Regions from separate parts of the Homo sapiens genome. Here region 2 is reported to be linked to region 1. The links are microRNA targets in miRTarBase. Many come from high-throughput screens and were not tested one by one. Region 1 holds a microRNA gene; the other region holds the end of a gene's coding sequence.
What was found. The annotated mature microRNA hsa-miR-548e-3p reads AAAAACUGAGACUACUUUUGCA and lies in region 1 at 1,846-1,867, shown strand. An mRNA with a match to its seed (bases 2 to 7 or 8) in the 3' UTR can be bound and repressed. Matches are read on the target gene's strand: a 7mer-m8 pairs with bases 2 to 8, a 7mer-A1 pairs with bases 2 to 7 and ends in A, and an 8mer does both.

Region 1 (4,000 bases):
GTTCTTAGGACAGAATTATCTCCATTGTTTTGCTTGTATCTGGGTTCCCAGCTTGTTTCTGTTCTGGTGCTTAGTCATTACGTTGTTAACTCTCTGATTTTGGTTTTGGAAGATGTTTTTATTTATTTATTTTTTTATTGGGAGAATTTATTTGAATTACCTACCATTACTTGAAACAAAGCAGTTGTTAGGGAATTTCTTAGCAGGGTTGAGTAGATTGTCTTAGGTTATACAGGACAATTATTTACAGAAAAGCAAGCTGAGACATGGATGTAATAAATAGCCGTTAGAATCTATGTTTCCCTGATTTTTGGCCCATGACACTATCGTATTACTATTTGTAGTGGAAAGAGATTACATATTCTAGTTAACTGGTTTATGGTTTAGATGTCCCTCTGAAAGGCAAGATTGTCTCCAACACATAATGAATTATTCTATTAATATCCAAAATAAATATTCTACTAAATGTCCTGTATAAAATAAGAGAATCAGATTTCTGGTTCAAGATAATAAGGACCAAGCACAATTATTTCATGCTTTTTTTTCTCTTTAAAATCTATTGAAATGGCCAAGATGAACAAGGAGATGTGACCTTAGGAGAAAAAAAACATAGGATATTTAAACTGCATGTTTAAAACATGATGAGGCTGATACAAAAAGGGAACAAAGAATAAAATACAATTCTTAGAGATATGTTTGCCAAATCAAATTTAATGGAAAATTCCATATAACCAAATGAACACAGCCAGAGACCAAAGTGATGATCTCTAGGATAAATTAAAAGTCCCCTAGAATCTAGATCAAAAAGAAATGTATACAAAAGAAGTGAAAAGTTAAAAAGTCATGGCAGATAGGACTAGACGTTCCAGAAGGCCAAATAGTGGTGATAGTTATAAAATATAATTTTATAATGTTTCCCTGAACTTGATAAAAACCCGGATAATAAGACCAAAATTGCTTACCAAGAAGAAATAAATTAAAAAGTTACATTCTGGTGGTAGTTTTAAATATTAGATGTATTTGTTTTGAATAAATAATAAATTCACATGTAATGTTATACAACCTATCTTTACCTGGTTTTTGGTTTCAGGGTAATGCTGGCTACGTATGTTCAATTTTTGGAATAGTTTGTATGAAATTGCATTATTTCTTCCTTTAATATTTGATAAAATTCACCAGTGAAGCCATCCAGGACAGGACTTTTCTTTATGGGAATTTGTTTTAAAGCAATTTCAATTACTTTAATAAATATAGGGCTATTCAGGTTATCACTTTCTTCTTCAGCAAACTTGGTCATATGGGTCTTTCAAGGAATATATTTGTTTTATTTCAATTATCACATTTAAAAGCATTAAGTTGTTCATAACATTCTTATTATTTTAATATCTGTAGAATCTATAGTAATGCCACCTCTCTAATTCCTGATATCAAGAATTTGTATGTTTTCTCTTTTTCTTAATCATTCTGGTTAGAAGTATATCAATTGTGTTGATCCTCTCTTAGTTTTATTGATTTTCCCTATTGTTTCTCTGGTTTTTATTTCATTGATTTCCATTTTGAACTTTATTTCACCAGCTTACTTTGAGTTTTATTTGTTCTTTTTCTAGTTTCTTATGGTGGCAGCTTGAGGTCATTAATTTGAGACCTTTCTATTATTCTCATAAAGACAGTTAGCACTGTAAATTTCCCCTTAAGTACTGCTTCAGCAGCATCCCACAAATTCTGATATGTTGTATTTTCCTTTTAAAAGTTTTTTCTAATTTACCCTTTTGTTTCTTCTGTGATCTATGGCTTTATTAGGTTGGTACAAAAGCAATCGCGGTTTTTGCTATTACTTTTAAAGGCAAAAACTGAGACTACTTTTGCACCAACCTGATAGAAGAATGTTATTTTGTTCCCAAAAGCTTGACAATTTTCCATGATATATTATTGACTTCTAATTTACCTCCATTGTGGTCAAGAACATTCCTGATAGGACTTGAATTCTTTCATCATGGTAAAAGTATTCCATGTGCAGTTTAATGTGTATTCTACTTTTGTTGGGTGGAGTGATCCATAAATATGAATCATGGTACAGATGAGGCAATCAATGAGTTTATTCTACTTTCTGCCGTTTCTGGAGGAGTCTCTTTTTCTTCTTATTTTTGTTAACTGCATTGTCAGCATAGGTAACATACCTTGTTGTACTAATTCCCATTTTTGTTTTAGTCTTAATGTTTATCAGCAGTCCTGTTGCCATAGTTGCCTCAGTCATTTCTTGGTTGGCTGAAGTCAATCTGGTTGGTAGTCATTTGCTCAAAAATGGTTCATGGGAGCAGTATTCTCCTATAGTTCTTGCATGTGTGTAGCTTTTATAATTTAAGAACAATTTAGATAGATACAAAATAATTGGATCAAACTGCCTTTCCTTGAGGATCTCAGTAGAACTTGTTAACAGGTAGTTCTACCTTCTTCTGGAATTGAATGTACAAAAATAAGAGGCCAGTCCATTTTCTTTTTTCCCCATGATAAGTGACTTAGTCATTTTGCTTGGCCAGCCAAAGTATTATTTCTAGATTTCTGAAATTTTAAGAACTATATTTTATTTATCAGTGTTTATTTTTCAGGATCATATTTTCCTAGTATACTCTGGGCCAATTCAACATATAGGTTTAAGTTTTATTTCAGTACAGTGTTCTTCAGTATATTCAGTATATATTCAGGGTATATATGCTTTCTGTTTGCCATATATATTCAGTGTATATTCAGTATAGTGTTCAGTATAGTAAATATGTCACACAGTGACATATTTAGTTTGTGTTGTATGTTTTTACATTAAAATATGTATCTGTAAGTTTGGTTAGTATGAACAACAAACTAATTGGAATGGTAAAGAAGAAAAGAAAGAATAATGCATAATCTCATCATAATCACTTTCAGTGGAATGTCACATAAAAGCACTTTCAAAAAATGACTTTATAAGATCCAAATTCTTAGTCTTAGAAAAACAAAATGTTCAAGGGCTGAGGAAGGCGAGCGCATGGCGCGGGACTGGCAGGCAGCTCCACCTGCAGCCCTGGTGCGGGATCCACTAGGTGAAGCCAGCTGGGCTCCTGAGTCTGGTGGGGACGTGGAGAGTCTTTATGTCTAGCTCAGGGATTGTAAATACACCAATCAGCACCCTGTGTTTAGCTCAAGGTTTGTGAGTGCACCAATGGACACTCTGTATCTAGGTGCTCTGGTGGGGACGTGGAGAACCTTTATGTCTAGCTCAGGGATTGTAAATACACCAATCAGCACCCTGTGTTTAGCTCAAGGTTTGTGAGTGCACCAATCAACACTCTGTATCTAGCTGCTCTGGTGGGGCCTTGGAGAACCTGTGTGTCGAAACTCTGTATCTAACTAATCTGATGGGGACGTGGAGAACCTTTGTATCTAGCTCAGGGATTGTAAACGCACCAATCAGCGCCCTGACAAAACAGGCCACTCGGCTCTACCAATCAGCAGGACGTGGGTGGGGCCAGATAAGAGAATAAAAGCAGGCTGCCGGAGCCAGCATTGGCAACCCACTCGGGTCCCCTTCCACACTGTGGAAGCTTTGTTCTTTCGCTCTTTGCAATAAATCTTGCTACTGCTCAAAAAAAACAAAAACAAAAAACAAAAAAAAACACAACAAAATGTTGCTTTACTCTACTGCAAATCAGACAGGAGAACCAAAATTTAAGATACTTGAAATGTTATCAAGTGATTTTCTTATCCCTCTCATTGATGTTTAGTCACTATGTATATCTTAGGATATTAAACATGCTAGACATTTTATTGTTTCTTGAACATATCAGGTAAATTCTAGCCTTGAGATCTTTGTGCTTCCCATCTCTCTGTTTAGAACTCTTTTCTCCTAAATATCTGTGTAACTTTGCCTGCTCCTTCAACTGATCAGATAGATATATATAGCATGATTTTCATTCGGCCTTCTTCTCTGTCTCAAATAGTCTAACAATATTTTATTATTTAATATTTT
Region 2 (4,076 bases), not on the chromosome of region 1:
AGCCTGGCCAACATGGTGAAACCCCATCTCTACAAAAATACAAAAATTAGCTGGGAGTGGTAACACACGCCTATAATCCCAGCTACTCCGGAGGCTGAGGCAGGAGAATCTCTTGAATCACGAGGCACAGGTTGCAGTGAGTCAAGATCACACCACTGCACTCCAGCTTGGGCAACAAGAGTGAAACTCAGTCTTGAAGAAAAGAAAAAAAGAGAGAGAGAAAAAAAAAAGGAATCTAATAAATTAATGGGAAATACAAATTGCGGTAAAGCCTTCTTAGCCATTTGTAGATAAAAAGTTCACAGCCTTTTAGTCTCCATGATCACAAAGTAGTGATACACAGCTACTTCATCACTGCCTAATCAGTCCATACTAGTCTATGGTTTGCTTCTGGGTTAGCACACATTTAGTAAAGGGAGACTGCAAACTTCCAAGCTCATATATTTTCTAAGTGTTTCACTGTTTCTCTCTCAACATTGTACCACATATTCCAGCCATCAGCCGTCTCCCACACCCCCGAAAAAAGTTTTAAGCAATTTTCAAAGTGTATACACCATGCACCATGTTAACATCTGATACTAAGGCTAAATTAGTAGCCAGAAGCTATGAGTAACATCCCAGCCACTTGAGTATACAAAATGCTGATGCAATGTCTAGGGTTAGGCAGGATATGGTGGGATGGGAGGAGACAGACAAGGATAGGCTGACTTGAGCAGCTGCTGGTGTGCTGTGAATGGGCCACTGTGGACCATCTGTAATGAAAGAGCTAAACACACATTTATGTGAAGGTCCAGCTGTGGAATTAGTCAGTGCAAAGATGGTAGTTTTAGGCACAAGCTTAAGCAGCTTCCTGAGAAGCTACAGCAGAAGGAAACAACACATGGTAGTAAGAACTGTAAAGTGGGAGACAACCTACAAATATCCACTATGGAAAAGATTCCCAGTTAGACATACCTGAGAGTCTAGACATTCACAAACTGATATGCATCCCTCTCTCTCTCTCTCTCTCTCTCTCTCTCTCTCTCTCTCTCTATATATATATATATATATATTCCTTTACAAAGCATAGTGGACATATGTACAAGCAAAAATAACTCGAAGTTACTTTGGGATCCAAAAACATAAGTCATACAAAGTGACTGTTACATGTAACTGTATACATAATAGGAAAAAAAGCAGGATAATGCTACTACTGAATGTTGGCTGAATCATGGTGAATGTAATATTACCCTTTTTAAGTTATTGATTGATGCAGATGCTGGTGGAGAGGTACTACAGGAATATTTACCTAATGAACCCATACCCAAAGGAACAGGTGAAACTGCTTTCAGTAATATTTTACCTAATGTAACTAATAGAATCTTTCAATATGTAATCAGTTGTTTAAAAACTGACATACATTACATTTTTATATTATGTCTTCAAAATCTAGATGTGTACTTGCATATACATTAGATCTACTCAGAATTCTTTTTTTTGGGCCAGGCATGGTGGCTCACACCTGTAATCCCAGCACTTTGGGAGGCTGAGGTGGGTAGATCATTTGAGGTCAGGAGTTCGAGACCAGCCTGGCCAAGATGGTGAAACCCTATCTCTACTAAAAATACAAAAAAAAAAAAGAAAAAAGAGCCGGGCATCATGGCAGTCGCCTGTAATCCCAGCTACTCAGGAGGCTGAGGCACGAGATTCACTTGAACCCACGAGGTGGAGCTTGCAGCGAGCCGAGATCATGTCACTGCACTCCACCCTGGGTGAGAGAGTGAAACCCTGTCAAAAAAAGATTTTTTTTCTTTGTTGTTCTACTCAGAATTCTTAAGTCAAGGACAGAATGTCCATTTTTAATAAGCTCCCCAAGTTAATTCTTATGATCAAACATGTTTTAAGAATTATTATGCTAATCGGGGCAACCATAAGGAGACCCTGTCTCTACAAAGAAATTAAAAAATTAGCCCGGCATGGTGGCATGTGTCTGGAGTCCCAGCTACTTGGGATGCTTGATCCCAGAAGGTTGAGGCTGCAGTGAGCCATGAACGTGCCACTGCACTCCAGCCTGAGCAACAGAGGGAGACTCTGTCTCTAAAATAAAAAAAGAAATTCAACAAAAATAATTCACAGGGCTAACACATGAATTAATTATTCCTTTACTTATTCCCTTCTAGGACTCAAGTCTTCCCTACTTTGGTGAATGTTTGAAGCCTAGAGAAACATATTCCATCAAGAAAGAATAATAATTAATAGAACATGTTTGTATACTCTATAAATTTTATACAAATTACAACATTTCAGTTACCATCATTATAAATTTGATATACTGTTTAATTTATACCATGTTATCTTTAATGTTTCTATATATTTGGTGTAATCTGTGCCATATTACTCTATAATTAGTATATTAAAATGTAGTAGACTATAGCTCTCTATTATATTAGGAGAATGCTACATGTGTAACCAAAGAGAATCTTAATATGTATAGGAGTATTCATTAGATATGTAGATAATTTTTATATATTAATGATACCTGCAAATTTGTCTAGATAATACAGTAACTGTGACAATAAGTAGTTTTTTTTAAGGGTTTAGAAAGTTAAATAATCAGACAATGCAACAATTTTTCCAGAATGATCTTAGAAAACTCCTTTGAGGTCAGCTAACATGACATCAAAATTCAGTGTGCATAACAGTTTGTTACTGAAATACTTTGTCAGAAAAGGCTTTGCATTAAAAAAAAAATTGACGTATTGATTTCTTTTTACAGACGGGGTATTGCTATATTGCCCAGGCCGGATTTGAACGCCTGGGCTCAAGAGATCCTCATGCCTCAACCTCTGAGTAACTGGGACTACAGAAGCGAACCACTGAACCTGGAAAGCCTTTTTTTTTTTTTTTTTTTTTTTTAAGACTGAGTCTCACTCTGTTGCCCAGGGCAGTGGCACGATCTCAGCTCACTGCAACCTCCGCCTCCTGGGTTCAAGTGATTCTCTTGCCTCAGCCTCTCGAGTAGCTGGGATTACAGATGCCCGCCACCACGCCCGGCTAATTTTTATATTTTTAGTAGAGAAGAGGTTTCACCATGTTGGCCAGGCTAGTCTTGAACTCCTGACCTCAAGTGATCTGCCTGCTTCAGCCTCCCAAAGTGCTAGAACTACAGGTGTGAGCCACTGTGCCAGGCCCTTTTCTGTTTTTTTAGGGCAAGAATGAGACTGTCACTTTACTTGCAATTACAGCTGTATAGCAGAAATTTTTAATGAGGAGGACATTTTTAAAAATAGTATTTACATAGCAATAATCATTAAAAAGTTATCTTAAGTTTCTAGAAACTACAGAATTAAGTAAAACCTGAAGTTCATAAATTTGTGATCCATGCTAAAATTGGGTTATAAAACAAACGATATGCCTCAGGCTCAATAAAAAATACCCCAAACCTCATCATCCGATATAAAACCTGTATTACTGAATGCTACTAAAGACAATAAGGCCGTTTACTTGTTAGTTCTCCCAGTCTGTGCAAGGTAAAGCCTCCTCTTCGTCCTCTGACTCTGGGGATGCTTCTTTAATTCTTCTAAGAGCTTCATGGATGCTCCGTGTTAGAGGGTCTGTATCGGGTAGAAGTGTGAAGGATTCTCTCAAAACATCCTTCTGTACCTTCTTCAATTTTACCCCTTTCCTTATTTGTGCCAAGATATTATTACTATCATCTTCATCAGGAAAAGGAGGCAGAGTTCGCTGTTCAACCTTTTTCAGATGAAAACTACCACGCTTCAAGGAGGCTAGCACCTCATCCATGGGTGAGCTCACTTTGGAAAATGAAACAGAACAGTATTACAGTTAGGACTGCACTTAATTAGAATGAAACTGTATAACCTCTACCGTTCGCAACTGTGAAAGCACAGGACGCTGAAACACCATCTTCAAAATGGATCATGAAATGTGTGCAGAAGGTGATCAGAACACAAGGGATCCTAATTATCCTTCTTTTTAGAAAATCCCAAGACCCAATCCATGGTGGGTACTGTTGGTATTCCTATCATTTCCTACATGAGAGAAGTGACCAGATTGGGAACTGGGAGGTGGTCTTA

Region 2: miRTarBase lists JMY as a target of hsa-miR-548e-3p. The part of its 3' UTR that is shown has no 7-base or 8-base seed match.

Annotation. Positions count from the first base shown.
Region 1 is chr10:110,987,133-110,991,132 of GRCh38, forward strand. It overlaps MIR548E (microRNA 548e), which reads left to right and starts at 1,794; the gene lies at 1,794-1,881. All of the region lies in intron 3 of SHOC2 (SHOC2 leucine rich repeat scaffold protein), which reads left to right.
Region 2 is chr5:79,315,718-79,319,793 of GRCh38, reverse strand. It overlaps JMY (junction mediating and regulatory protein, p53 cofactor), which reads right to left. Exons shown (of 11, transcript NM_152405.5): 10 at 3,484-3,794. The coding sequence ends at 3,487. It overlaps LOC102724530 (a long non-coding RNA gene), which reads left to right. Exons shown (of 3, transcript XR_001742756.1): 3 at 2,160-2,785. Among named protein-coding and RNA genes, the nearest start is that of JMY, 82 kb to the right of the region's middle.